Linked DNA regions of Homo sapiens: all the other regions are linked to region 1. The links come from fine-mapping of genetic effects on gene expression. A gene starts in region 1. Each other region holds a variant in brackets. All regions are shown on one strand. Distances are from middle to middle. Region 1 holds the start of TTYH2 (tweety family member 2). Region 2 holds the start of LINC02074 (long intergenic non-protein coding RNA 2074). Region 3 overlaps LOC107985081 (a long non-coding RNA gene). Region 4 overlaps FADS6 (fatty acid desaturase 6). Region 5 overlaps TTYH2 (tweety family member 2).

What was found.
Region 2: its variant is fine-mapped to the expression of TTYH2 in whole blood (INTERVAL, PIP above 0.99).
Region 3: its variant is fine-mapped to the expression of TTYH2 in whole blood (INTERVAL, PIP above 0.99).
Region 4: its variant is fine-mapped to the expression of TTYH2 in whole blood (Lepik 2017, PIP 0.95).
Region 5: its variant is fine-mapped to the expression of TTYH2 in whole blood (TOPMed, PIP 0.97).

Annotation. Positions count from the first base shown.
Region 1 is chr17:74,211,008-74,217,103 of GRCh38, forward strand. It overlaps TTYH2 (tweety family member 2), which reads left to right and starts at 2,564. Exons shown (of 14, transcript NM_032646.6): 1 at 2,564-2,709. The coding sequence starts at 2,581. MGC16275 (a long non-coding RNA gene) reads right to left here and starts at 2,314. Exons shown (of 2, transcript NR_026914.1): 1 at 1,517-2,314; 2 at 1-675. RefSeq lists a silencer at 2,441-2,600 and an enhancer at 4,859-4,908.
Region 2 is chr17:74,108,938-74,115,033 of GRCh38, forward strand. LINC02074 (long intergenic non-protein coding RNA 2074) reads right to left here and starts at 3,962. Exons shown (of 5, transcript NR_184085.1): 1 at 3,709-3,962. The variant G/A (reference allele first, on the strand shown) is at 3,498.
Region 3 is chr17:73,933,058-73,939,153 of GRCh38, forward strand. LOC107985081 (a long non-coding RNA gene) reads left to right here. Exons shown (of 3, transcript XR_001752999.1): 3 at 461-589. All of the region lies in intron 5 of LOC105371888 (a long non-coding RNA gene), which reads right to left. Among named protein-coding and RNA genes, the nearest start is that of LINC00469, 110 kb to the left of the region's middle. The variant G/A (reference allele first, on the strand shown) is at 3,212.
Region 4 is chr17:74,879,439-74,884,438 of GRCh38, forward strand. It overlaps FADS6 (fatty acid desaturase 6), which reads right to left. Exons shown (of 6, transcript NM_178128.6): 3 at 3,092-3,272; 4 at 1,630-1,817; 5 at 1-145. Among named protein-coding and RNA genes, the nearest start is that of FDXR, 8.9 kb to the left of the region's middle. RefSeq lists enhancers at 1-100, 101-600, 3,007-3,537. The variant C/T (reference allele first, on the strand shown) is at 2,000.
Region 5 is chr17:74,240,688-74,246,783 of GRCh38, forward strand. It overlaps TTYH2 (tweety family member 2), which reads left to right. Exons shown (of 14, transcript NM_032646.6): 5 at 2,687-2,782; 6 at 3,290-3,362. Among named protein-coding and RNA genes, the nearest start is that of TTYH2, 30 kb to the left of the region's middle. RefSeq lists an enhancer at 4,195-5,089. The variant G/A (reference allele first, on the strand shown) is at 3,510.

The DNA of each region.
Region 1 (6,096 bases):
GAGACAGGCCTTGCAGGGGTGTGTCCAGCCTTGTCTAGAGAAGGCCGCCTTTCATGCAGTGCTTCCCAGCCCTGGCTTGTGACTCAGTCATCTGGGGCACTTAGGCAGTTCACTGTGGTGGCCAGGGCTGACTGGAGATTGCGATTGCGGTGGTCTGGGGCATAGGTGTGTTTCCAAGCTCTCAGGTGGGCCTCTGCTTTGCTGGGGCTTCAGCAAGCCCTTAAGTGCTGCATACCAGGTGAATGGGGAGGGGGGAGGTGATGGGCTACAGCTGCTGGTGTGCCGACTGTCCTCCAACTCCCTGCTGAGTCTGTGGGAGGTCTGTCTGTTGTGCTTCAGCTTTTTGACACCTCTCTGGGTCAGCAGGCCTCCGGGGAAGCAGCTAGAATGGTCGCTGTCTGGCTGGGTGCAGGTGGGCTGACAGGTTTGGATATTCCAGGCCGCATTCCGGTGGCTGTGGAGATAGCCCTGAGGGACAGCCTTTGCAGTTTGTTTCTTCCAGTGCCGTGTGCAGGCCTCCAGCCTTCTGGGGCTCCCTTGCCCCGGGTTCAAAGTCAGTCCTCGGTGACCACCCACTGCCTAGGAGGCAGGCCCTTCCCACCTGGGGGGCCTCTGAGGGCAGGGGCTGTAAAAGCAGCTACCAGAAGAGTCCACTTTCCCCAGCAACTGCAGGGACTGAGTCAGAGACCAAGACCTTTTAAAAGGAGGTTTTCACCCAAAGAAGTTCCCTCCCCTGCCGCAGTCTCCAAGCTGATCGCCTGGCTCCTGCAGTTCTCCGGCTCCCTGTCCTGTTCTGGAACTTGCTTGCTTCCCCTTCCACTGGCCTTAGTCCCTGATCTCACAGGGTCCTGTTCCTTCTGCACAGAGGCCTCCCCCAGCACCCCCCTCTTTGACTCCCGATCATCCTTCAGCTCATGTCACTGTCCTTTGGGAAACAACCCTGACGCCCACCTTCCATCCCCTCTCCCTACAGCAGGGACTCTGACATTTCACAAGGCCTGCAATCGCTGTTTGCAGGATACAAGTCCACCTCACCTCGCCTACTAGGCTGTAGACGCCATGCAGGCGGGAACGTGTGTTTTATCCATTACTGTATCCTCTAGAACAGAGAACGTGCTCAAGAAAATTTGTTGAAAGACACCCCAATGAGAGAAGAATGGCTGTTTCCAGCCTTCCGGGCCCCTCAGCTTTGGGCTCCTGCAGGGCCCCAGAACCGTGGGATCACGGCCACGAGGAGAGGCCCCGAGGCCAGGACTTCCTCTAATGGACACAGGGCCTTTGAGCACCGGGTGACTGGGGCCCCACTCCCCAGCAGCCATATGTGTTTGCGAGCGTTTTCAGTCGGTCCGCATCCACCCGGTCCCTTCAGCCAGAACCCTAGGAGCCCCGCCCCGTCCTCCCGGGGCTCCTTTCTCACCCGCGTCCCTGCCGCGGTGGATACGCACCCCTCAGGCTGGCTGCCCAGCGCGGTTTCCACGCCCAATCTGCCGCGACCCCATCACTCCACCGCACCTACCCCTGACTCCTGCTTGTCCTGCAGCCTGGGCTCCTCCCTCCGCTGGCCAAGTCACGCCAAGCAGTTTGCGGTTACAGGACGGGTGGGGGCCTCTGCATATGTGCAGAGTACGGAGGGCCCAGGGACGCGAGGCTCCCCGATGGGCAACCTCCCCTGCCTTTGCTTTTCCCCAGAGCCCCCTCCTGGCCTGCGTTCGGCATCTTCTCGGGTCGTCATCGCCCTCTGCGGTGCCTGCGCTCGGGGTGAGGGTTTTTGTCGGCTTTTGTTACATCACCGATGTAACAGTGCCTGGACGTAGTAGGTGCTCAATAAATATGTTGTTGAATGCGCTTCAGTCTCCCCGAATGCTTGTCCCTTCCGGGCGCTCTCATCGCTCTCCTACCTTCCCCGCTACACAGCTCGAAGGTCCCCTCCTCCGGGAAGCTCACCCTGTCCCACTTGCCAGGAAGAATCAAGCAAATTTTCTGAGTGAGACACCTTGTCCTCACTCAGGCGTCCTGCAGGCGGCTTCAGCGAGTTGTTGGGGCAGATGCGCCGGGAGCTCCCGAGGGCAGGGACGGCGTCTTATTTCTCTTTTTAAGTCCACAGGGCTTGCACAATAGATGCCCAAAAAATGAGAGTGAATTTAGAATGAGTGACCGAGTGGCTGAAGATTGCCTCCTTCCTTTCCCAGTCTGTCGGTTACTTACCCTGTGACAAGCCCTTGGGACGGGCAGTCGCCCCTCTCTGGCCTATGACTGCTGGCTGCCCCCACTGACACCTTATACCCTTGATCTGATCATAAATAAGAAGCAGCCCGGGGACCTCGAGACTGAAACTGATTTAGAGACTTCTGGGAGCTTTTTTCACTTCCCTCCTCCCATCCGGCCAGGACAGATCCCCGCCCAGAAAGGGGCTGTTGACTGCAGCGGGCTGCGCGCCCAGAACTGGGACTGGGATCGCGGCGGGGCGGGGCGGGCGCGGGCCCAGGGAGAGGCGGGGCCGGGGGCGGGGCGGGCACGGGGCCCCGGCCGGGAGGTGAGCGCAGCTGTCGTTCAGCTTGTGGGTAGCACTCGGGCCGAGCCATGCAGGCGGCGCGCGTGGACTACATCGCTCCCTGGTGGGTCGTGTGGCTGCACAGCGTCCCGCACGTCGGCCTGCGCCTGCAGCCCGTGAACAGCACCTTCAGCCCCGGCGACGAGAGTTACCAGGAGGTAAGTTTACGCCGCCCCAGACCGCAGCCACGCGCGCCCCAAGTCCCCGCACTACCCCCTCTCCCCTCGAGAGCCTGCACTTTCCCACGTGCCTCTCAGACCCCTTCTCTCCCCGCGCAGCCCTTTCCCGTCTCCCCTCTCCCCTTTTCCCCCACCCTCCCAGGCCCGTGGCCCGCGTCCCCTCCTGTCTGGGAACCTGGGGGCCGGGAAAACTGAAGAGATCAGAGTGAAGCGAGCGTGGGGAAGGGGAGGAAGGGCGCAAGACCGCCTGCGGGGTGAGGGGCTGAACGCTGAGCGGGCAGGGCGGCGCGGGGGAGGGGTAAGGACAGGGGCATTCGTCTCGGGGTAATCCTGGCGCGCGAGGTGCGGGGATGCTGAGGGGTGCCCCGAAGTTTTCGACCGTCTGAGATTCCAAGATGGGGCGCTCTCTTTCCGGGGCTGAGTGGCCTAGGAAAGTTTGGCAGAAACTGAGTAGAGTCTCCCGAGTCGGTCTTCGCAGCACCCCTCCTCCCCAGCCCCGGCCTGCAGGGTGGGAGTCTCAGCTGGAAGGCTGCAGGGCTTGGGGAAGCGGTGTGGGTCACTTCCCCTCTAGCGCAGAGAACCCACAGCTGCTTGCGCTTGTTCCAGGGAAGGAAGGTGGCCTCCGTCAGCCCATCTCACACTGTTGTCCTGAGGACCCCCTTGCATTGACAGTCAGCTTCTCTGTGTCCCCTGGTCCTAGACTGGCCCATTCCTGTTCCCCCACGCCCCTCTCTCTACCTCACACCTTTAAGCCCTGAATTTCTGGCCTAGGGCAGTCACTCCCGGCTTCCCCGCCCTTTCCCTACTCTGCTGACCCTTGGCAGGATTCTGCACCCCACAAACAGGGCCAGGGCTCCCCAGACCTCCCTGCCCAGACAAACAAAGCTGCAGAATCTCCCAGCCCGTCTCAGGTCTGGTCACGCCTGCTCTGGCCCCGGGAGCCCACCTGTATCAGTTCCTTGTGTTGGGTCAAAGATTCTGGGGCCAGTGGACCAGGATGAGGTCCATTTATTCAGAGCCAGGCGCCCATCTCAGGACTTTGGCCCCCGGCGGCCTCTCCCTGTGTCAAGTTCTCCAGATATGGGACAGATCAGGGCAAAGCAGGGCCTCTTGGAGGGAATCCTGATCCAGTGTGAGGTGCCCAAGCGCCAGTGACAGGGAGTCTAATAATAACCCCTGACGACCCGGCTGCCATCAGGCCCAGGCAGATGGTGCCTGCCCTACCAGAGGGAGGGGAGCATCAGGACCCCTTCCTGGGGTTCAGTGGGCACTCAGGAGCAAGACGGCAGTCGGTGGACCCACCCCCCTCCCCCAGAGCCCAGCCTGTGGGAGTCTGTGTTCCCTGAGAATGTGGCTGCCTGGGGATAGCTCCAGGGAATCTTCCTCTCCCAGAGAATGCATGAAAAGAGGCGGATATGATTTCAGAAACAGCCGTGTGTGTGTGTGTGTGTGTGTGTGTGTGTGTGTCCCCATCCCAAACCCTGTGCCCCACATCCCACACCCGGGGTCTCCAGCCATAGTTTTCTCCTCTCCACTGGAGGAAATCTAAACTTTTCATTGGGTCAAGAAGACCCCTAGGTGGGGGTAGGGATGGTAAGGGGACTCCCTCACCCTGATGGCCCCAGAGACAGTTCCTATCAGCCCAACAGCTGTGGCTGGTGGATCCTGGGCCTGCCCACAGCCCCCTCAGTCCCATGGGCAGGTGGCAGTTGAGCCAGATGAACCTACCTCCAGCCTCTGCCCCTCCTCCCAGGATTCTGGCCCCGGCTCACTTTGTGCTGGGCATCAAATGGTTCCAGAGGGTGTCCCTTCCCATCGGCCACTGCTCCTGGGCAGCTGACACCAGCCCTGCCCACTGGCTCCTGGTCCCGCTCACCCCCTCACCACCACTCAGATCGCTGAGTAGGAGATGAGCGTGGTGGGCCAGGACCGGAAGTCTGGCTCTGGGTGTTATTTAAGGTGGCTCCTGTTTTTGGTAAGTTCCCCTGTTGTGACCACAGGTCTCTCCTGGATGTCTTCTTTCCTCCTGAGCACCAGTCACTAACAGAGTCAGGTGGACCGTCGGTCATCCCAGTCTTCAGCAAGCTTGACTGGAGCAAGTGCTATGCCAGGCGTGGGGTGACCGTGGTAACCAAGGCAGCAGGTCTTCAGGAGAAATTGCTGGGGATTTTCTGCGGCTGGGCTCTGGGCGCAGTGCTATGGCAGACACCAAGCAGTTTGAGGTGGGGCTCTGCCCTCCAGTTGGCTGGGGTGGATTCCCAGTTCTTTCCATGTGTGACCACGGGTAGGTGTCTTAACCTCTCTGAGCCTTGTTCCCTTCATCTGCAAGAATTAGATGAGATATTCCACATATCATGCCTAGTACAGAGAGTCCCATAGCACATAACAGGAGCCAGTGACACAGATCATTCAATGGAGTGGCTGAGAGGTTCAGGAGTGTGTCTCAGGACAGTACCCTGCTGGGGAATGGAGAGGAAGGAGATCTCTTCCACAGACTCTGATTGGGGGAGACTGAACAAAACGCCTGCAGAAAGGGCTTCAGCTCATGCCCCACATGTTCAAATGCACAGTGCTGGCTGTGTGGGGTGTGGGGGGTGGGTGCGTGTGCATCAGAGACTAAGCAAGGATGGAAACAGGCAGGTGCTGGCCTTAGGATGTGGGTGGTGCGGGGGATCTCAAAGGCAAGGGGGTTCTTGGAAGTGCAGAGATGGTGAAGAGCAGGTCACCTGGTGAGCTGGGATTTCCTGAGCAAGTTCAGTGTTCCAGAACCTTCCTGAGGAAGTAGGGGCTCTCACTCACTTTCTGGGGTGTTTGGGAGCCGTGAAAGCCCCCAGTCCTCCTGATAGTTGATCCTCACCCCTCTCCCCCCAGTGAACTTGAGCCCAAGTCCTCGCAAAGGCCACTTGGCCTGTGTCACCAGCCTTGTGGGGAGGCTACCCTCCAGTGAGTAGAGGCATGAGAGGTGAGCACCAAGGCAGGGCTGTGGACGAGGGCACCTTGGCCCTGGCGGGCACCCAGCTCTGGGCTGCCAGATGTGGCTGTATGTCTGGAAGGAAATCAGCCTAGACCTGCAGCCCAAGTCTTCTCACCTTTGACAGATGAGGGGGATTGGATTTGGAGACGATTCCTACTCTAAAGAGATGATAAAAGAACTAATGAGTTCATGGATTATGAAGCCTGTGGCCAGTGCCTGGCACACTGGAAACTGCTACAATCACTGCTTAGGAAGGAGAAGACTGCAGCCAGCCGGTGTCCACTGGGCAGTGTTGGGGAGAAGGGAATGGGCACCTGGCACTGAATCCAGCAATGTCTCTCTGAGCAAATGAACGAGGCACTTCGGTGTCCCTGCCTGAGCGTGAGTGCCAC
Region 2 (6,096 bases), 100 kb before region 1:
AAGGACTCATCTTGATGCAAAGCCTTTCTTCCCTGCACCAGAGGGGGAAAAAAACCATAGTAAACAGGAGGTGGGGGAAATCAATTCCTCATGCACGTTGCTCATTGAATGAGGGAATCTCAACCCAACTCTGTCCTTTCCTGTCTTCTATTAACTTTGTCAATTTCCCACCTCCTGAGTTGCTGGCTTTGCATGATGAGGTGGGTGAAGGTTTGGGGAGGTGAGCTGGAGAAAGTTGATGGCCCCTTGGGCTGGGCCATGGCCTTTTAACTCTATTATGTTGGGATGGGGGGCTTTGTCTCCAGATTGGCTGCAAGAAATCACAGAAAATGAGGGACCTTAGAGAGCACCTATTTCAACCACCTTATTTTACAGATTAGGAAAATAAATCTCGGGGAGTTTAAGGTCTCACCCAAGGTTGTTTAGCCATGAGCCACAGAGGCAGCCCATAAAAGAGCTAAATGAATGGCGAGTCCAGTGGGCAGGTACTGCCCCGGAGCAGAGGGAAGCGCTTCTGCAGCTCCTTGGATTTTGTTGCCTGAGGTCGAATAAAGAACTCTTAAAGGGATAATGGCTCAGTAACTCAGGTGCTAAAGTAATGGAAGCGAGAGGGAAGATCACCTCCTGACTCTCAATCTCTGGGGGACAGGGGGCGGTGGGAACGAGAAAGAATTGATGGGGGCCTCCTCCTGTGTCCCTGAACAAACAGAGCACTTGCAAGAAAAGTGCTTAGGAACTAATCACCCCTACGAGTGGGAGGGGTGCCCTTCAGATGGTAAATCTCCCCATTACCAAGGACGCTTCCTTTATTGTGGATTCGCAGTCTCCTCAGAGAAGCATCCAAGGAGCTTGGCATCTCCCTTGCTCCTGGTGAGACCGGAAGGCAGGCTGGTCCCCAGCTCTTCAGAGTGGAGCTGGGAAGAGCTGCAGCTGCCCCAACGCTGGGAAGTCACCAGTCCTTAGGGTTGCTACGTTTAGCAGATGAAAATTCAGGATGGGCCAGGTGTGATGGCTCACACCTGTAATCCCAGCACTTTGGGAGGCCGAGGCAGGTAGATCACCTGAGGTCAGGAGTTCGAGACCAGCCTGGCCAACACGGTGAAACCCTGCCTCTACTAAAAATACAAAAATTAGCTGGGCGTGGTGGTGGGTGTCTGTAATCCCAGCTGCTCCGGAGGCTGAGGCAGGAGAATCACTTGAACCCGGGAGGCAGAAGTTGCTGTGAGCCAAGATCACGCCACTGCACTCCAGCCTGGGTGACAGAGCAAGACTCCATCTCAAAAAAAGAAAAAAAAAAAAAGACATAACAGCCAGGTAAATCTGAAAAACAGCTCTAACTGCCTAACTTGTAATGTTTTGGTGAGAGACAGCTAAATAATATTTAGGGTGTTCCAACAGGGTCAATATGGGTCAAAGGACAACATCTGTTAGCTCAGAAGAAATCTGTCAGCACAGAGCATATGCGTTGGCCGGGCACGGCGGCTCATGCCTGTAATCCCAACACTTTGGGAGGCCAAGGTGGGAGAATCGCTTGAGCACATTTCAAAAATCAGCCTGGACAACATAGGGATATCCCTGTCTCTACAAAAATAAAAAAAAAAATGAGCCACGCCTGGTGGCACGTGCCTGTGGTCCCAGCTACTTGAGGGGCTGAGATGAAAGGATTGCTTGTTGAGATCAAGGGTGCAGTGAGCCGTGATCACGCCACCGCATTCCAGCCTGGGAGACAGAGCAAGACCCTGTCTCAAACAAAAAAAATGTGTATACACAGGGCCCCTGGCCACCGTCCCCGCTCGAAACCCCACGCAAGTGTGTGGGAAGTGCCCTGCCCCACACACAGTAATCTGTCTGCTCCTCCCAGGGTGAACTCCGTATGAATGACAGCCTGGCAGTCTGTGTGTGCTTCCCCACTAGGGTAGGGGCCCAGAAAAGGGCTCTCCAAAGTGGGCTGATAACATTTTGGACTGTTAAGTCTTTTCATCCTAGGGGGCCTTCCTGGTGGAAGCAGGCTTCAAAGAAAGATTTATGTACACCACAGAGCTCCAGCATCTCCTACATTTAAAAGTCTGGGACACTCTCAAAGGACCAAATAAGTTGCATTGGAACAAAAGTGACAAACAGGAAGGCGGGATAGGTAGGGGGCGGGTAGTGCCATGGGGCTTGGACACTGTGGCTGGCAAGTCATTTCACCCTTCTGAAACTGGTTTTTTTAATTTTATAGTTAAAGGATCTTGTTATGTTGCCCAGGCTGATCTCAAACACCTGGGTTCAAGCGATCCCCCTGCTTCGCCTCCCAAAGCGCTGGGATTCCACTGGCCGGCTTGAAACCCTCTTATTTGTGGGATGAAGACTGCCCAGCCCACAGGTTGTTTTGAAGATCACATGGGGTGATGGAAATAAAAATGCTTTCAAATAGCAAGCTGCGGCCGGGCACAGTGGCTCACGCTGTAATCTCAGCACTTTGGGAGGCTGAGGCGGGTGGATCACGAGGTCAGGAGATCTCTCGAGACCATACTGGCTAACACAGTGAAACCCCATCTCTACTAAACAAAAATAGAAAAATTAGCCAAGCGGCTACTCGGAGGCAGAAGAATGGCGCGAACCCGACAAGCGGAGCTTGCAGTGAGCCAACATGGCGCCACTGAACTCCAGCCTGGGCGACAGAGCAAGACTGTCTCAAAAAAAAAGTAAAAAAAAATAAAAATAGCAAGCTGCTACAGAATGGAATATAAGCTCCTAATAAAATTGGACATGACCTGACACCGAGTACCAAGCTAAACACTTCACGTGCTTTATCTCAGCGCCTCTCAGTTAATCTCATCGTCACATGCCTATGGGGCCAATCCATAACTTCTTCACTTTGCATCTGTGGAGCTCAGAGGTCTTGTACGGCCTGGCCCCACAGTCGGTAAATGAAACACAGACCCTGGCCGGGTGCGGTGGCTCACACCTGTAATTCCAGCACTCTGGGAGGCCAAGGCAGGCAGATCACGAGGTCAGGAAATTGAGACCATCCTAGCTAACATGGTGAAACCCGGTCTCTACTAAAAATACAAAAAAATCAGCCAGGCATGGTGGTGGGCGCCTGTAGCCCCAGCTACTTGGGAGGCTGAGGCAGGAGAACGGCGTGACTCCGAGGTGGAGCTTGCAGTGAGCCGAGATGGAGCCCCCACACTCCAGCCTGGGAGACAGAGTGAGACTCTTGTCTCAAAAAAAGACCCTGATTCCAAACCCGGTGTTCATTCATTCCTTGTTCAACAACGATTCAGCAAATGTTTGCTGCCATCAGCAGAGTTCAGGGTATCAAAAAGAAAGCAGTGGATGGGAGACACCCACTCTTGCTCTCATAAAACTCAGTCTATTAGAACCATCACCACAGGAGAAAGGATAATTTTCCAAGCATTTACAAGGCACCAAGGACCGTGCTAGGTACTTTCCATGATATAGGAACTAATGTTATTCCCATTATTTCAATGAAAACCGAAATTCAAAAAGGC[G/A]AAATGATAAACCCAGGTCACACAGCTACGGTGGAGCTTGGATTTGAACCCAAGTCCTGGACTCCAGAGGCCTTATTCTCCCTTGCTGCTACGCTAGAGAAACAAAAAGCTTTCATTGTGATGATTTAAAGCTTAACCCTCACTATAAGGATAGTGACCCCATATATTACCATGTTGTGTCTGGAATTTGTGGATTCTTGGTCTTACTAACCTCAAGAATGAAGCCGTGAACCCTCGCACTGAGTATTACAGTTCTTAAAGGCGGCGTGTCCGGAGTTTCTTCCTTCTGGTGGGTTAGTGGTCTCGCTAAGCTTCAAGAGTAAAGCTGCAGACCTTCATGGTGAGTGTTACAGCTCATAAAGGCAATATAAACCCAAAGTGAGCAATAGCAATATTTATTGCAAAATAGTGCAGAGTGAAAGAACAAACCTTCCACAGCACAGAAAGATAACCAAACGGGTTGCTACCGCTAGCTCCGGCAGCCTGCTTTTATTCTCTTATCTGGCCCCACCCACATCCTGCTGATTGGTCCATTTTACAGAGAGCCCATTGGTCTGTTTTACAGAGAGCTGATTGGTCCGTTTTGACAGGGTGCTGATTGGTGCGTTTACAATCCCTGAGCTAGACACAAAAGTTCTCCACATCCCCACTAGATTAGCTAGATACACAGTGTCGATTGGTGTATTTACAAACCCTGAGCTAGACACAGAGTGCTGATTGGTGCATTTACAAACCTTGAGCTAGATACAGAGTGCCGATTGGTGCATTCACAATCCCTGAGCTAGACATAAAGATTCTCCAAGTCCCCACCAGATTCAGGAGCCCAGTTGGCTTCACCCAGTGGAGCCGCCTGCCCGCCCGGCGCCGTTCGCCCGCACTCCTCAGCCCTTGGGCGGTAGATGGGACTGGGCGCAGCGGAGCAGGGCGCGGCGCTTGTCAGGGAGGCTCGGACCGCGCAGTAGCCCACGGCGGGGGCGGGGGCGGGGGCGAGGGCAGGGGCGAGGCTCAGGCATGGCAGGCTGCAGGTACCGAGCCCTGCCCCGCGGGGAGGCAGTTAAGGCCCTGCGAGAAATCGAGCGCAGCGCCGGTGGGCCAGCACTGCTGGAGGACCCGACGCACCCTCCGCAGCTGCTGGCCCGGGTGCTAAGCCCCTCACTGTCGGCCGGCCGCTCCGAGTGCGGGACCCGCCAAACCCACGCCCGGGGAACTCTACCAGCAAGCGCTGTGCGCAGCCCCGGTTAGCCCCCGTGCCTCTTGCTCCACACCTCCCCGCAGCCTGAGGGAGCCGGCTCCAGCCTCCACCATCCCAGGAAGGGGCTCCCACAGTGCAGCAGCGGGCTGAAGGGCTCCTCAAGCGCGGCCACAGTGGGCGCCGAGGCCGAGGAGGCACCAAGAGCGAGCGAGGGCTGTGAGGGCTGCCAGCATGCTGTCACCTCTCAATGTCAGGTTTTCAGAGTCTAAGTTTGTGAAATTTAGAAAGAAGAGGAGAATCGCTGGGTATAGATGTAAAACAATGCTTTGTAGGAAGGATCTAACATTTTCTTTCAGGATGAGGGCAGGAGTGCGTATCTGAGGCTTTGGCTCAAAGACAAAGAGGGAGAGAGAGGGCTTCACCTCATGATCTACAACATTTCCACGATGTACCACCGCGTCCCGGCTCCCCGATCCCCTTGGAAGAATTCGTTCTCTCGGTCAGAGCGACCTCGCACGCTGATCGGTCGAGGGACCCGCCATGCTCAGGGCTCAGCACCCCCGAGTTAAGGAGACAAGAGCAGCCATCTCCCGGCCCCCAAGCACCCGGACTCACACCCGCCTCTGCTGCGACTTCACCAAGGAAGGAAAAATGGCTCGAAATGCCTGTACATTAAGAAGCGTATAATTATGCATAATAAAAAGACGCCGGCCCTTGTGTATATAAACACAGCTTTGACTGAGTGCCTTCTCCCAGGCAGCCCTTCTGGCTCTCAACAGCAGCAGTGGAACATCTTAAACATATGGTCGCCATCCAGGCCTCCAGGCAGATCTGAACTGGGGAGGGGGTGGGGGCAGGGGCAGGCGGGAGGTGGAGACGGGACGGGGATACAGGAAAATCAGGAGATGGTTGTTTGGGGAAGAGGGTTACACGGAGAGCTGGTGGGCCAGGGGTCAGACATTTACAATCAGGACATAATCTGTGACCTGCCACCCCAAGTTGAGCTGTCTTTCTCTCTCCCTCCTCTGCCCCAGGCTCAATTTGCCCCCAAAGACAATAATAGGGAGTTCTGCCACCTGTCTCCGGGGAGCGGGAAGGAGAGCTGCTGAGTGGCAGGAATATTTCCTGGTTTTGATTTGGGGATCCTCTCATTTCTGTTTGCACTGATTTCAGCACCTGTCACCTGCAAGGCGCTGAGTAGGCAAGGAGGGAATCCCCCAGTGGATAAGCCACTTCCGATGGTGTAGCAGTTCAACAGGTGATCAAAGACACCCCCAATTTCAGTCAAGCTCCCAACCTTGGGTTCTCCAGCCTCAAGCTTTGCCTGGCCTGCCCATCAGGGTGTGGTCTTGCTGCCAGCTGCTCCTGACCAGGGTGGTGAGTCTTCAGGCTGGTGCTCAGCCTCCC
Region 3 (6,096 bases), 280 kb before region 1:
CTGTAGAGGGGGCCAGCCAGATGTATTTACTACTAAGTGGATGCAAATTCACTTACTGCTGATTTTCAAAGAAATGAGCCGCCCCTGCCACAATATTGCTTTTCTCATCACCAAATGGGGCCTTTGCTTTGTAATTTGGTGAAGCTGTCAAAACAATCAGATCTAGGAGGCGGGATGGTGTCTGCGTTTTGGCATCCCAAGAGATTGATCTCAGTGGTTGCTCCAGGCAGCTCCACTCAGAAATGTGCTCCGTGGGGGAGGCCATCTAGGGCGTGTCATGGAAAGAGATGGGTTAGCTGGGTGTGGAGCACAGGGCAGAGCCAAGGTCAGGATGGGCTAGACCTCCAGGTTCCTCAGCTGCAAAAGCAGCCCCAGGGAGATGTGGTTCTGGACCACCCAAGGGGCTGCAGAAAGAAAGGTATCGACACACATACTTGTTCAAACCTGTACTCTTTTCTAGGACTTCACAGGTCCACTGGGCCACAGCAGCCGGTCCATGGACTCCAGATCTAGAACCCATGCTGGGTAGAAACCCCTTCAACTGCTCAGGCAAGTCATTGGATCTATCTGAGCCTGACTGGATTTTTCATTTGCAGGAGAAAGTTGACGAATCTGTCCCCATGTTCCTCTCAAGCCCTAGTTATAGGACTTCTGAGGTAAAGGACAAGTTGGGAGAGTATCGTAGTTGGGCTGTTCTGGAAAGGGATGTTAGTCCTCCTGGAGCTGGTTACTAGTACAGGATTCTTGGGGTTACAAATGATGGAAAATCAAGTCTAACTCAAGAAAATTTGCTTCATGCCACCAGAAAGCTGAGAGTATTGGTTTTCTAATTGCTGTTGTAACAAATTACCACAAAGTGAGTGGATTAAAACAACATAAAGTGTTATTTTGCAGCTCTGGAGGCCAGAAATCCAGAAATGGGTTTATGTGGCTAAAACCAAGATGGTGGCAAGGCTGCATTCCTTCTAAAAGATGTAGGGAAGAATTCATTCCTTGCCTTTTGGGTTCTGAGAATGCCTGAAATTCCTTGGCTCACAGCCCACTTCCAGCAATGGCATAACTTTGACCTTTATTTCCATGGCCACATCTCCCTCCCTGACTCTAACTGTTCTGCTTCCCCTTGTGATAACACTGAGCCAACCCATATAATCTGGGGTAATCTCCCCATCTCAAAATTCTTAATCATATATGCAGTACCCCTTTTGTCATGTAAGGTAGCATATTCACAGATTCTAGAGGTGAGGATGTGGATGTCTTTGGGGGCCATTATTCTTTCTGCCAACTTTGGGGAGCAGACTTCAGGTGCTCCTGAAGATCCAGCACAAGGAAGAGGGTGCAAGTGGCTCAAACAGTATCATCAGGGTCTTTCTTTCATCTTTATCTCTGCAGTCTGCTTCCTTCATGTTAGTCATATTCTCAAGGCCATTTCAAATAGCTTTCCCCCTGCTAGCCAAGAAAAATGCTGCCTCTAGCCCTCAATTATGGCATTTCAGATTAGTAGATATTAATAGTTTGGGAAAAAATAATCTTTCCCCCTCTATCTTTCTCTCTGCCCTGGTCCAAATACCAGTCTCTGTGTAGATCCCTTGAATTAACAAAGGGATGCTTGGGAAGAAGGGCACCGGGGAGATATACAAATCCTTGAGACAGCTAGGGTGGGGGTTCATCAACCTAATTTGTAGATTAATCAGCATGTACCCATTTAGTAATCCAAGCTGGTGATGCCAGACACATCAGCTACAAAGTGCTCTAGCAGCAAGCCTGGTCATTATTTAGTCTCTTATAGATCAGGCCAACCACACAGAGCATGTGCAGGAATCCCAGCCCTGCTCAGCCCAGAGCATTGACATTTGTGGTTAAGCAGGGCCCCATGGAAGCCACACACCCGTCCCCCTTGGTTTCACCACGTGTCTCTGTAACTTTGAGGGAAAAGGACCCTCCCTCCTGGGATGGGATGATAATTAAGAGTAATTTCAGTCCTGTTGGGCTCCAGTTACAACAATTACAGGGTTCTGGATCAATTAATACTCACATTTGCATGGAGAAGATGGTGAAATTTAGAATGTAGACCCCCCATTTAGGAGCTATAGCTAGGGTGACCCTACAGCCAGGTGTGCTAGGGACAGTCGTGGTTTGCACCTGAATTATTCATAGTTCTGCTCTTCACTCTCAAAGTGGTCCCTGTTTAAATGATCAGTGTTACGGTTACCCTAATGTTAGTAGAAGTAGAAAAGAGTTTATTTTCCCCTTCTACTGTTTCACTTACCCCTGAACCAGGTGGGGGACTCTAAGGCAGCAGCTGGAGAAGACCCCCAAATCACACAGGTACCCCTCTTCCTTGTGCCGGCTGTAAAGCCAAGGAATAAACCAACCCTTCCCATTGCAGGGAGTGGGAAGCCAGTGATGTGGCTTCCTAGTAGCTGTCCCCAGCCTCTAGACTGTACCGTCTGGATCTGCAGAGGCCTGTTCACTGTCATGCCTTCATGCAGATCTCTGGGGTAAGTGCTCTGTTGCTGTAGGAAAATAACTTACAACTTTTCTTTGAATGTATTTACATGAATGCCTATACCTTTATTTAAATGCATAAATGTTGTCATTACATGATTCATGTGTATGTGTGTGTGTGTGTTTGTGCAGACTCTTAGTTTTTTTTCCTGTTAGTTTGACTTTCCTTGACACCTCTCCTCTGTCCTCCACCCATAACCACTAGAAATTCATGCTAATAGCCTAGTAGGGATCCTTCCACATTTTTCTTCATGATCATATTATCCTGTATAAATATATACATACACACACTACATGTGGTAGACATGTATGTACATACATGTATGTAACTTTTTATACACACCCACATGCATTCACTTATACACATGTGTGCACTTATACATGTATAGCCAGCCTTTTGTCATTATTTGTTTTGCAGAAATATATGATATTCAGTTTCTTGCATCTTGTTTTCCTCACTCAACAATACCTTGGGGAACTCTCTCTCTGTCCTCCAATATTGCTCTAATTGTTTTCAATAGGGCATAATATCGCATGGTATAAATGTACTATAATTTATGCACCCAGACCTCAAGAGTGACTGCTCACTTTGTTTTCATGGGAGAAATTTCCCACATTCACCAAATATAAATGTGTGACACTGGCCGGGCGCGGTGGCTCACGCCTGTAATCCCAGCACTTTGGGAGGCCGAGACGGGCGGATCAC[G/A]AGGTCAGGAGATCGAGACCATCCTGGCTAACATGGTGAAACCCCGTCTCTACTAAAAAAAAAAAATACAAAAATTAGCCGGGCATGGTGGCGTGCGCCTGTAGTCCCAGCTACACGGGAGGCTGAGGCAGGAGAATGGCGTGAACCCGGGAGGTGGAGCTTGCAGTGAGTCGAGATCACGCCACTGCACTCCAGCCTGGGCGACAGAGCGAAACTCCGTCTCAAAAAAAAAAAAAAAAAAAAAGTGTTACACTTTTGCCCTAATGCTCCTGACTCACATCTGATTCAAAAGTCTTTAAAAACACATGTCGATTTGAAAAATATAATCAGCTGCTATTTTTTCCAAGATGTCACACTGACCCACCATCAAACTGTCGGCACAGCTTGGTACACTTGTTCCCTACGCAGAGTCACAATCAGCCTTTTGTATTCTCTGGTGTTTGTTGTCTGATTGCAATTCTGAATTGGGGTGACCATCAAAACTGGGTGCCTACACAGGAGGCATCTCAATGTATTAGAGAGGGGCCAGTCTTTGGAACAGACAGACCTGGGTTCAAATTCTGATAACCATCACCTATAAGCTGGGAGATTTGGATAAATGCTCACCTTCCCCCAGCCCCTGTTTTCTTTGTCTTTCAGATAGAAATCATGATACCAACCACATAGAGCATTAAATGAGATTATGGGTGCACAGGGCCTGGTCCCAGGGGGCCCACTGCCCAGGTGGCTTTTCCCAACCACAAATTATGAATCATGTTGGACTTGAAGGGGAAAAGTTCAAATTGATCAATAGCGATGTCAGGGGCAAACAGTCCGAGTCAGATAAGCAAACAGAAACAGGTTGTTTTTGGAATAATTGGATGCCCTGTCTTTGTTTGCAGAGCAGCGTGTGCACCATGGATGTTTAAGGAAGCTTATTGCCAGCAATGTCCAGATGACTGGTGAGCCACAGCAAGAGAGGGGCCTGGCTGCGGGAGGGATCCAGAAAGCAGGGAGCTGATGGAGGTTTAGGATTAGGACCTGAGGAAGGGATGCTAGGGCAAGGATGCGGGAGGTAGCAGTGGCCTGAACCCTCCTACACTCTGGCCACAGACTTGATGTGGCAGGAGTAGTTGGGTGGGCATTTTTCCGCCTGGCAGCAGAGGTCGCTTTCTGTCCTCTCCCCACACCATACATCACACTTTCCAACTCCACCATACTCAACCCCCTAAGAAGAAGAAAGAGGAAATGAGCTCCACAACACAGGTCTGTTACGGACTGAATATGTGTGTCCCCTCAAAATGCATATATTGAAGCCCTAACACTCCAGTGGGATGGTATTTAGATGTGGGGACTTTGGGAAGTGATTAGGGTTAGATGAGGTCACAGGGTAAGGCCCCTATGATGGAATGAATGGCCTTATAAGAAGAGGAAGGAAAAGACTAGAGAGCATGCATGCGCTGTCAGTCTCTCTCCCTCCCTCCTTGCCACGGGAGGACACAGCAAGAAGGTGGCCATCTGCAAGCCAGGAAGAGAGGCCTCACCAGGACCCACATCAGCTGGCACCTTGATCTTGGACTTCCAGCTTCTAGAACTGTAAGAAATAAACGTCTATGGCATTCTGTTATGGAAGCCCAAGCTGACTGAGACTGCAGCCCTGCCTTTCCTTTTAGGGTACCCAAAATGGAGTCCTGTGGCCAACACAAGCCGTGTGCCTCATCTCTTGCCATGTTCCAGTAGGGGGATATAGCTGTGGCCAAGACAAGTGGGGAGGTATCTGGGGTGCTCACAGGCAGGGCCTGGAGAGGAGCCCTCTTCTGGGCAACTTACACAGGACTCTGAGATACTCCTCAGCATCTCCCCTCCTTGGTGCTAGGCATGGTGTCTTGCACACAGTGGGAGCTTTATATGTGTTTGGTGAGACATTGATTAAAAATAATAGACAGCGAATACACGCAGATGTGGAGAGAGACGGAACCAGCAGTTGCTAGATTGGAGGAAAGAGTGTATTCCCGCCTCAGCCCCGCCCTGTCCACAGCTATGAATTAATCTGCGGTGGGGAGCGGGATTCCTTCATTAAAATCTCCAAAAAGGGAGTCATATTAACAGCCAGGCACACCGTTCTTTTCCCTCAAGGTAAGAAGATTCATGGCTCAAACTTACATTTTATCACGCACAACCGAATAAAAATGATCAATTTCCCTGCCCGCCTTACAGCATCCTTCCACAGTTATTAAAGTCTCTAAAAATGTTTTCCTTAAAAAAAAAAGGTTAAAAGAAAGAGAGGTGCAGAGAGTGCAAACCAAGAAGAAGCTGGGAAATGCTGCCTAGCTGAGGGCTATCCATCTTGTCAGCTGCAGACCACATAACCTTGATGTCACTATATTTTCTGCTCATATCCAAATTTACAATTTGCCAGCCAAGGATATGGAAATGCCAAACCTCCCCCTTGGAGGTGGATGCTGGAAGGTTCTTAAAGAGCCTGAGAGAGAGGAGCATCCTAGCTCTGAAAACTCCAAAAAGACACTGAGCCTGCTGCTGGACTCTTAGCAATTTTCCCTGAGTTGGGAAAAACCAGCCTCCAAGGTCAAGGAGATGGATTTCAACTCCAGGGCCACACACACATTCAGCAAGAGCCCCTTTGTTCATTGAAGAACAAGCAGGTTTCCACTTTGGAGGGCCAGAAATGTACCTGTGCAAGTTAGGAAATGGGAGGGTTGGGCCACGCAACAAACAAACTCTGGTGTAAACCAGAGTGAAAGAGAAGTGTTTAACCTACAGGAAAGAGCAAACTGCATGCCAGCCCTGCAGAGCTCCGCCTTGCATGCAAACACACAAATGGGTAATTATACATCATTCATCTAGTGGGTCCCCAAGAACCTTTGGTTTGCCATTTTGGTAATTTA
Region 4 (5,000 bases), 670 kb after region 1:
GATGGTGTTCCACATGGCAGCTGATGATCGAGTGGCCGAACGCCCAGTCCAGCACGGGCAGCCGGGCCAGGTTAAGCACCCCCAGGCTCATCATGTGAATCCGACGGGGCTTGTTGTCCCGGGAGAACATGGGCAGTCCGATGTGCTGTGACAGACACGTGGGTCACGCCGGGCAGCCTGGACCTCCCCACCCCACTCCAGGTGTCCTGGGACCTCATGCTACCCAGAGGGTTCTTGTGTCACCCACCTCCCATGTGGGGGGACCTGGTAGAGGGGCTCCTGGCCCAGCTCCGATGATGACCCTGTCTGTTTTCTGCACTGACTCTCATCCATCTCTGGGCCTCCCTCCCCATCTGAACAGTGAGGGGCTTAGCCTGCACACCTCTCAGGTCCCATGGTTCCCTAATGCTCTCAACTGCCTACCACTCAGTCTCATCACACCGTGCCCTTGCCTCATTCTGGAGAGACCCTTCCTGCTCTGTTCACCAGTCAAGATCCTACTCATCATTCAAGGTCAAGTTTAATAGGCAGTGTCAAGTGCTTCCTCTGCCAGGTGCTCAGGAACTCAGAGGTCAGGAACTCAGACATGACCAGGAGCTTCGGTGGTTTCAGGACAGAACTCAATTATGGGATTAAGTAATTAAGTAGTTAACAGCAGTTGTGGTAAGTGCTGGACAAGGAAGTACAGGAAGCTCTACTCTGAGGCCTTCCCTGGGCAGGGAGCAGGGAGACGTCCCTCTGGAAATGACGCTGGAGCTGAATGCTGAGCCCTGGCCTCCCGTGAGGAATTCCGTCTCCAGTTCCTCCATCTTTCTCGGGGCAGGCACTAGGGGCCTTTATCTCCTACTGCTTGGCATCCGCGCATGGAGGAAGGCATGCTGACTATGTTGAGGAGAAGCTCACTTCATTATTATTATTATTATTTCTTTTTTTTTAGCTGGAGTCTCACTGTGTCCCCCAGGCTGGAGTTCAGTGGCGCAATCTCGGCTCACTGCAACCTCTGCCTCCCGGGTTCAAGCGATTCTCCCGCTTCAGCCTCCCAGGTAGCTGGGATTACTGGTGCTCGCCACTATGCCCAGCTAATTTTTGTGTTTTTAATAGAGACAGGGTTTTACCATGTTGGCCAGGCTCCTGACCTCAGGTGATCCACCCACCTCAGTCTCCCAAAGTGTTGGGATTACAGGAGTGAACCACCGCACCCAGCTGAGAAGCCTGCTTCTTCCCTGAAACCAAAACTCGAATGATCCTCAGAGCAGGGGGTGGTCGGGAGGGGACCACTTACCACAACTGCTGTTAATTACTTAATCCCATAATTGTGTCCTGTCCTGCACCAACCCGAAGCTCCTGTTCACCCCTGATTTCCTAGACCTAGCATAGTGCCTGGCAGAGGAAGCACTTGACACTACCTGTCAAACTTGACCATGAATGATGAGTAGGATCTTGACTGCTGAGAGGGCAGGCAGGGTCTCTCCAGGACGAGGCGAGGGCACAGTGTGATGAGAGCGAGAGGGAGGATGCCTCATCCTTCAGGTGGCCCCTCTCTCCTCAACCTAGAGTCCAGCCTGTGATCAGGGCCCCTGGAGAATGCTCCCCTTAGCTGCCCAGCGCCCCAGGTTGGGGTGGCCTCACCTGGAAGATGTTGACGTGGAGGTAGGGGTGGGCCAACAGGGATCTGGTGAGGAACATGCAGCCCAGGGCTGAGCTGGGGTTCTTGAAGCCTGACACGTTCAGGAGCAGCCAGTAGTGAGAATAAAGGCCCAGAGAAATCAGGGCCAGCGTCCGCAGGGCTGTCCCGAGCTCCACCTTCCTCAGCCGCTCTGCCATAGAGGGAGGGGACAGGCAAGGCTCAGATCCATCAGGAGGGGCTCCCTGCTGGCTCAAGCGTGCTAAAGCAGTGGCGGAGGCCAGGCGTGTTCAATTCATACCCACAACAGCCCTGAAAAGCAGGGCACCCCATTGTGTGGATGAAGAAACAGAGGCCAGGCTCGATGGCTCAAGC[C/T]TATAAACCCAGCACTTTGGGAGGCCACGGCAAGCAGATCGCTTGAGCCTAGGAGTTCGAGACCAGCCTGGGAAACATGGTGAAACCCCATCTCTATCAAAAATACACAAAATTTGCTGGGCGTCGTGGCGCACACCTGTGGTCCCAGCTACTCAGGAGGAGCCTGGCCTCCCAAGCTCGGGTGATCCTTCCACTTCAGCCCCCTGAGTAGTTGGGACTACAGTTGTGTGCCACCTACAGTAAGTTGAGATTGTGCCACTGCACTCTCCAGCCTGGGCAACAGAGCAAGACTCTGAAAAAAAAAAAAAAAGAAAGAAAAGAAAAGAAAAAGAAACAAAGAAAGAAACAGAAACATTAAGCAATCTGACCAAGGTCAAGCCCTGGGATTTGAACCCAGGTCTAGCTGCCCCATCACCCCTGCCTCCCTCCACCATATGACATAGCTCTCCTGATATCAAAGCTGATAACATGAAGTATTATTTGTGCAAGGCATCTGCAAAGCATTTTTTTTTTTTTTGAGACAGAGGCTCCTCTGTAGCCCAAGCTGGAGTGCAATGGTGAGATCTCGGCTCACTGCAACCTCCGCCTCCTGGGTTCAAGTGATTCTCCTGCCTCAGCCTGCCAGGTAGCTGGGACTACAGGCGCCCACCACCACGCCCAGCTAATTTTTTGTATTTTAGTGGAGATGGGGTTTCACCATGTTGCCCAGGGTGGTCTCAAACTCCTAAGCTCAAGCAATCCACCTGCCTCAGCCTCCCAAAGTGCTAGGATTACAGGTGTCAGCCACCACACGCAGACCCTGCAAAACATTTTTATACTTAGGACCTCATTTTCTTTCACACCATACTTGAGGAGGAGGTACAGGACCCGAGGCTCAGACAAGTTAAGTTATCTGCCCATAGTCCCCAGCTAGTAAGCGGCAGAGCCAGACTCAGCTCCAGGTCTGAGGCTCTTTCTACCTTGCCATGCTGTCTCAGCACGTATCTATCGGGCCTTCCTCTATAAGCAGCCTCCATGAAGCCACGCAGGGGAGGAGAGCAGGGGAACTAGGTCCATGCAGGACACTGCGGACCGGGCTCTCATGGCACTCACCGACAGCCACCAGTGGAGTGGCGATGGGGAGGAGGAAAGGAGCAAGGAACATGTAGACATAGCGGTTGAGGCAAGGCAGCCTCCACGTGCTGGAGTCCCCCAGGCCCACCACGTTGGTGTAGGCATGGTGCATCTTGACGTGCCCATGCGTGGCGTGCTCTGCAGTGAAGGCTGTGCACACCTAGAGGAGGGAACCAGAAATGACACTGGGGTCCCTGTCAGGCACAGTTGAGCAATGCAGGACCTTTGAGAGCCCGGAGAACACCCCCACCTCCTCAAACCCTGCATGTCCAGGGCCGTCCTGCCTTACAGCCCCAGCTAATCCGCTTTGACCATCAACTCTCAGGTATCTATGACCACGGAGTGGCAGCCAGTCAATACAATCGTGTCCGTTTGACGAGGCTCTGCAAAGCATTTGGGGGTGGGAGGCTGGACCCCTGGAGTGCCAATCTGCCAGTGACTGCCCAGGCAATGAGTCTCAGAGTCTGTCGTGATTGGAGGCACTGCAGGTGATGACCCCGGCATCCAATGCAATGATTTTGTGTGTGTTTCTCTTAGAAGCATCTGCTCGTTAATAACACTGAGCACTCTCAGCCCGGAGCAGCAGCCAGGAGGGGCTACAGGAGTGGTCTGAGAGAGCAGGGACACCATCCCCTGACCAGTCCACAAGGTGGGGGCGGTGCCCTGGTGGGGGCCAAGAGCTTCTCCCTAGAGGTGACTCTTCTGCAGTATGGATCCCCAGTGGGATTCTCGGAAGCCGCTCTGAGCAGCAGCACGTGCGCTCTGACTCCTAGGAGAGTAGTCAGTCTGGAATGCAAAAGCCACGCTAAGGTGTTTCTTAAGCAGATACATGCAAATGGTATGCAGATGTAAGCCTCTTCCGATATTTTATCTAGGACAGAAGATGTGGCTAATTTTATTGAAGATGCTGCCTGTTTCTGGAACGACGTGAAAAGTTTCCCAATACCAGTCACTGCAAGCCAGGAAAGGACAGCGGAACACCCCCGCAGAGGGCTCACTGCACCAGGCTCAGCGCCCTTCACTCGCACACTTCCTGAGGGCGGTGGCGGATGACCACATGCTGCTGAGTTAGTTGGAAAATGGATGGTCCTGCTGAAAAAGATTATTTATTTTATTTTTATTCTGTTTTGAGATGGAGTCTCGCTCTGTTGCCCAGGCTTGAGTGCAGTGGTGAACCTCTGCCTCATGGGTTCTTGGTTCATTGCAACCTCCGCCTCCTGGGTTCTCCTGCCCCAGCCTCCCGAGTAGCTGGGATTACAGATGCCCACCACCATGCCTGGCTAATTTTTGTATTTTTAGTAGAGACAGGGTTTCACCATGTTGGCCAGGCTAGTCTCGAACTCCTGGCTTCATGTGATCCACCCACCTCGGCCTCCCAAAGTGCTAGGAACACAGGTGTGAGCCACTGCGCCCAGCCCCATTTGTTCTTTCATGCAGTTGTTTGTTCACATAAGCATTGTCGGACCCCCAGTGGTGCCCAGCACCATGCTAGGCCTGTGGGGTTCCCAGGGCCTTGTCCCTGGGAAAAGGAAGAGAATGCCATCAGCCCCATTTGATGGGCTCATTGCCGACTGTACGGGACCCACTCCCATCAGGATAAGGTGCTCTCGAGGACTATTCTTGCTGTGGCCCTCACCAGGGTCCCTCTCTCATCCCAAAGGTGTCTAAAACATGGCTGCATTCACACAGATCCTGCCCCAGAGCCAGCCCGAAGAGTTCCCTGAGGACTTGCACCTGGAGACTTGTACGCTCCCTGAGCAAGACTGACAGGTGTAGCAAATGAAAATACAGGATGCCCTCTTAATTCTGAATTTCAGATAAACAAAAAATACGTGGAATATTTGGGATATACTTATACAAAAATATTGGTTGTCTGAAATTCAAATTC
Region 5 (6,096 bases), 30 kb after region 1:
GAGATAAAAAGCCAAGGGGCTCCTCTCTTTGAGAGGCTACGGTTGAGGGAAGAGGGAGCCGGGGTGGGAGTGGCTCTGGCAGGCAGAGCCGAGTTCTTGGTTAGGAATACATCCCCCAGTCCTCGCCCAGCTCCTCTGGGAAAACACATCCGCCTAGAGGAGATGTTTCCAGGAACCCCTGACAACATGAGGCGTGGAGGCAGGGAAAATACATTGAATCACAGCCACAGAGAGTGGGTTAGAAGCACCCCTAACTGGATTTCCTGCTGCTCTGCAGAGCGGAGGCGAGTGGTGAGAAGAAATCTTTAAGTTTGAAACATGAACTGGGTATTTCGAGAGGTGCCCTGTAGCTGGCTGTGTCCCTTGCAGGAAGCTTGATGTAGACAATGTGGAATTTCTGGGCCAGGCTCTCCCCACCAGGGGCCTTGGCTTTCTAATCTGTACTAATCTGTAGAATGGGATCCAGCTCACACCTATGATCCCAGCACTTTGGGAGGCTGAGGCAGGAGGATCTCTTGAGTCCAGGAGTTTGAGACCAGCCTGGACAACATAGACAGACCCGGTATTTATAATACGTGTGTGTGTGTGTGTGTGTGTGTGTGTGTGTGTGCGTGTAAAAATAAGAATGTGATCCAAACACTAGATGGTTTGCGAGGTTCCTTCCAGCTCTGAGCTAAGTCTAAGGAAACTGGCTTCTTGGTGGCAGCAGGCTCTGCCCACTCCCCAAAGCCCCCGGCTCCATTCCGGGGAACCCCAGAGACCTAGTGTGTGCTGCCCCCTGCTCGTGCAGAGACAAGGACTTTGATTAGTCCCCTTCTTTTGGCAGTAAGCCTCAATTCGGGGAGTCAGAAAGAACCTCCCTTGGCTGCCAGGCCTCCAGCTTGCTCCCTCCCCTCTCTCCCTCGGAGCCTCTTTGCCACTTTCTGCCAGCTCCAGGGCACTCCCTGCCCACGCTCCAAACTCCGTCTTCCCCTTTATGATGTCAGTGAAGCAGAAAACCATTGCTGGAGAGGAGAGGTCAGCGACTTTACTTGGCTCTTGCAGCAAGAGAAATAATGATCCAAATACTTCCCTCTTTGGGGACGGGGAAGCCCCTGTCTCTGTGCCCGCCCCTCCTCTGTCCACTCTCCCGCTGGTGCCCAGCACAGGGTAAAGGGCATGGCTGCCAGGGGAGACCACTGGGCCTTGTGAGGACCACCTTGGGGACCTGTGTGGAAGGGAAAGGAACGAGGGCACTTTGTTTGGGGTCTTCTCAGTGTCCGTTGGCTTAAGATACTTTGATTCTTCAGCCTGTTCTCTGGAGAAGCAGGAGGGCAGGGCCTTTGAAGTCCTTGGCTGCCTTGCCCCATCAACCTTTATATTTAGCAAGCACTTAATCCTTCCTCTGGCCCTGTGAGATGAGGGGTTCCAGCTCCCTCTACAGATATGGAAACCAAGGTCTCAAGGGGTGAAGTGGCTTACCAAGGTCTCCCAGCTGGGGTGTGACTGCCTTTCCCCATCAGTCCAGCCCTGGGGACAAAAAGGCCAGAGGAATGAAGGGCTTGGAGGAGGCTGGAGGTCTGCAGGGCTGTAGGTACCCTGACCTGGACTCCCGGGTTCCACACTGAGCCCTCTGATGGTCAGAAACGAGCCCACTCACCTGGGTATCCCTGGTGCCAAGCTCAGTGCCTGGCACAAATGTTGTTTAAAAATGAACCTGAAGTTTTTTGTTGTTGTTGTTTTTGAGATGGAGTCTCACTCTGTGGCCCAGGCTGGAGTGCAATGGCGCCATCTCAGCTCACTGCAACCTCTGCCTCCTGGTTTCAAGTGATTCTCCTGCATCAGCCTCCCGAGTAGCTGGGACTACAGGTGCCCGCCACCACACCTGGCTAATTTTTGTATATTTTGTAGAGATGAGGTTTCACCACGTTGGCCAGGCTGGTCTCGAACTCCTGGCCTCAAGTGATCTGCCCGTCTTGGCCTCCCAAAGTGCTGGGATTACAGGCGTGAGCCACTGCGCCTGTCCTGAACCTAAAAGTCTTAAGTTATGGATCCCATCCAGCAAGGGGGCAAGATGGGAGGCCTTGGGGAGCCAGGCTGAGTGTTTGTCAAAGAGGCAGGCACCTTAGGGGCTGTGTTAGATCTGTGGCTATAAACATCAGGCCTTGGCTGGTCTGATGCTGTCTGAGAGTTCTAGAAGCAAAGGGAAGCAGGGTCCTAGGCGATGCCTGCTGGGAGGCCGCAGAAAGACACTTCAGAGCTGTGCTGTCCAGGGTGGTAGCCCCAGCCATGTGTGGCTATTGAAATTAATTAAAATTAAGTAAAGTTTAAAATGTATTTCTTCAGTTGCACAAGCCATATTTCAAGTTCTCGGTAGCCACCTGTGGGTAGTGGCAAAGAAGAGAGTGGACAGCAGGGATTTAGAACAGCTCCTCCACTGGGGAAAGTTCTAGTGCACAGTGCTGGTTTTGACACTCAGCCTAGAGGTGAAGGCAGGGGGTGTGAATTGACAGCTTTGTCCAGGCAGCAGTGGGGGTGCAGCTCCCGAGGCTTCAGCCCACGCATGCTGGGTGCTTGCTGGCTCTGGGCAGCATGTCCATAGTAGAGGGTCCAGTGTGTCCCAGGGCTGCCGTGCAGGCCTCTCACGTGGCCAGCAGGTCAGAAGTTCCACCCTGCTGCTCCTGACCATCCCTGCCCCTCTACCCAGGTGGCTCTCCTACCTCCTGCTCTTTATCCTGGACCTGGTCATCTGCCTCATTGCCTGCCTGGGACTGGCCAAGCGCTCCAAGTGTCTCCTGGCCTCGTGAGTATCCCTACCCGTGGACCTGGGACAAAGAGCTGGGCAGGATGCCATCATCAGAGAGAGACGAGGGCCTGGCCAGCTCCAGAGTGTGGGGAAAATAGCCAGGCTGCCTGAGGCCACCTTCTGCCCCGTCCTCAGCACTCAGCAGAGGAGACAGACAGCAGCCACCAACTCACCATCTGGTCACCAAACGAGCAAGCATTAGGCTTTCCTCCTTCTCTGGGCCTGACTCTGTTGAGCAGCTAAGAAACATGGGTCCGTGCATGAAAGCCTCTGGCCGTCTTAGCCAACACTGCCCCCTTAGCCTGTGCTCTCACGCCTGGGTCTCTTTAGCCTCAAGGACCTGGGCTCCATGGTCCTTTCCTAGTAGTGAGCAGGGCCCACGTCAGGGCAGGGACTGAGGCTGCCTTTGGATCCATTGCAAGGGTCTGGGGGCAGGGTGGGTGGGGTGATGGCTGAGAGGAAGGGGACCCCGCCTGCCAACGTTGTCGCCTGCCTCTCTCCTAGGATGCTGTGCTGTGGGGCACTGAGCCTGCTCCTCAGTTGGGCATCCCTGGCCGCTGATGGCTCTGCGGCAGTGGTGAGTTGGGGGAGGGAGTGGGTGGTGGGTGGTGGTTGGTCTGCCAGGACACTCTGGTGTGTCTCCAAGCAGGGCCAGCTTCCGGTCCCAGCTCCTAACCTAGAATCCCAGAATCTCAGAACCAAAGGGACTTGCGTCATCTGAACC[G/A]GCCCCTCTCGTTACAGATGGGGAAACAGGCCCAGAGAAAGGAAGGGGACTGCCCAGGGTCAGAGCCAGGATAAGACACTCATGCTTCATACCCAGAGAGAAGCCCCCGGCTGCCCAGGCATGCTTAGGCTTACACGTGCTTAGGCTTAGGCGTGCCTGGGTGACCAGGGCGCTTCTCTCTGGGTGTGAAGAACTGACCGGGTCTCCTGAGAATGGGTAGGGGTCCAAGCCTCAGACTGGGGAATCCCTCCCGCATCAGAAGCTGCTGCTTTGCCAGCTCCCCAGGCCCTGGGACTGTAGAATGTGGTGTCTGACTTGCCTTCCATCCCAATGTCCCAGGACTCCCGCGGTCTGAAGCACACATGCTGTATGTTTCTGGATGTGATGTCTCAAAATGGCTTAAAAAAAAAAAGTTGGGGGCTTCCTATGCGGGTCCACATGATCTTTAAAGGACCTAACACTGGCGCTAAGCTGTGTGCATGAGGCTGTTCATTCACTCAGCTGACATTGTTTGCTGGGTGGCACTCGATGGTACAAGTTGCCTGGGGTTGCGGAAGCCAAGAGGACGTGATGTTTGCTGTTGACAAAGTTCCAGCCTTTGGAAGCAAGACTCATAGGCAGATCACTGCAACCCCAGGCTTTGATACAGTGGAGGTGCAGTGTGTGTGTGTGTGTGTGTGTGTGTGTTTGTGTGTGTGTGTTCATGCACATGCACGTGATAGAAGAGAACACAGTTTACCAGGGGAATTCAAGGAACCCCTCACTGATTCAAAGTCCACAGACTAACCCTGGGACATGCATCTGTTCTGCCATAGTGACCTGAGGCTTGATAGGATAAGATGGGGGTGGCTTGTACAAGAAGCTCCCTAACCACACTCACACCTCGTCCAGTGACTTGGGGGCTGGCCACTAGCTCTGGGCGTGGACACAATGCCCTCAGGGACTCTGGCACTGCCTGACTTAGCACCTTAGGCAGAGGCTTGTGCAGAAGGGAGAAGAGGGGGCATTTTCTGTCTTTGCCTCCTGCCACCCCAGTGCAGTGACCACGGACCAAGGAATGGTCGAGAAAAGGCCCAAGTCATGTTTGAAAGCATGCAGGAGCTGGGACGGCTGTAAACAGTGCCACTGCTGGCCAGGGTGATGCAGGCAGCTGCCTGGCCTCCAGCCTCTCCTCTGGGGCCAGGGCCACGCACAGGGAAGCTGCAGGGAGCACACGGCGAACTCCTCCAGGGCCCCATCCCGCTTTCTGGGCAGCCTCTGCCTTCTGGAGGCAGCGGTGGCTTCCAGCTTGCCGCTGTGAGCTGCCCTGTGGTGGCCGCCCCTCCCAGTGGGGGCTCCTCCCTCTCACCAGGCTTCAGTGTTCACGAAAACCAGAGGCCATTTAATCTCCCAGCTGGGCGCCCTGGAATGCGGGGAGCTGGGGAGAAAGGCCATTTCCCTAATTCCTCTAGTCAGGCCCCTGAGTGCGAGATGGGGAGCAGGCGGTGGAGCTGAATGGGCTTTTGACGGGCTGGAGATGCTGCTGCATTTTAATAGGAAGCCGGGTGAGGAGGAGCCAGGAGGGCGGGGAGGGCGGCCGGCTGTCCCGGGGTTGTTGTGGAGAGCTTTTGTGTGGCCTCCCAATGCCACCCTGCTCTCTGAGGCCTGTTTTGACAGCCATGGGGCCAGAGGATTGACAAGGCCTCCCTTCCCCACCCCCGACCCCTACCCCTCCCTGTCCCTAGAAAGGACTCCATGAGGACAGAGCACTGCCCTGGAGATCTGCTCTGGGTGAGGCAGGGAGAGGAGGGAGCAGCGGAGCTCCAAGCTTCCAGGCCCTGGGGCCACCCCTCGTGGTCAGCACTGCGAGTCAGGAGGTGTCTGGGGTGAGGGGCTAGAGCAGGCAGAGAGGCTGGGAAGCCCTGGAAGAAGGAAGGGGAAGGAAATGGGTTCAGCTGTGAGGGAGGAGGCAATGGCTGTCACAAGTGCTTTGGCCACCGAGCCTGGGGACAGAGAACTTCAGGGGATTCCTCCAGCTAAGGGGCAGCCAGGCCTGCCCCTGAGTCAGAGGGTGGGAGTGTGGCCTCTGCAGCCACCCTGTCTGGGCCCACATCCTCCCTTCACCCCTTCCCAGCAGTGGAAACCCAGGAAAGTTCCTGAGGTTTTCTGTGCCTCAGCTTCCTCCTAGGTGAACACAGAGAATAACAGGACTTACCTCAAAGGGCTGTTGCTAGGGAAAGATGAGTGGGTTCATCCTGGGAGGCACACAGAAAATGTCCAATAAACAGTGGCCACCACTGGCTTCCTGTGCATTCATCGTCATCATGCTAGGGTCACGGGGGTCCCTTCAGACCCACACCTCCATTCTCAGGAGCTGCCTGCAGGCTCAGCCATCACCTGGGCTGGTTACTGGGCAGCCTCTCCCACCTGCCCCAACTATGCTCAGTGACCTCCTTCCTGTCCCCTCTCCTGCCATCCCTATCACCATGGCATGAGTAATGCACACGTGTATTAGTCCATTTTCACACTGCTGATAAAGACATACCCAAGACTGGGCAATTTACAAAAGAAAGAGGTTTGATTGGACTCACAGTTCCACATGGCTGAG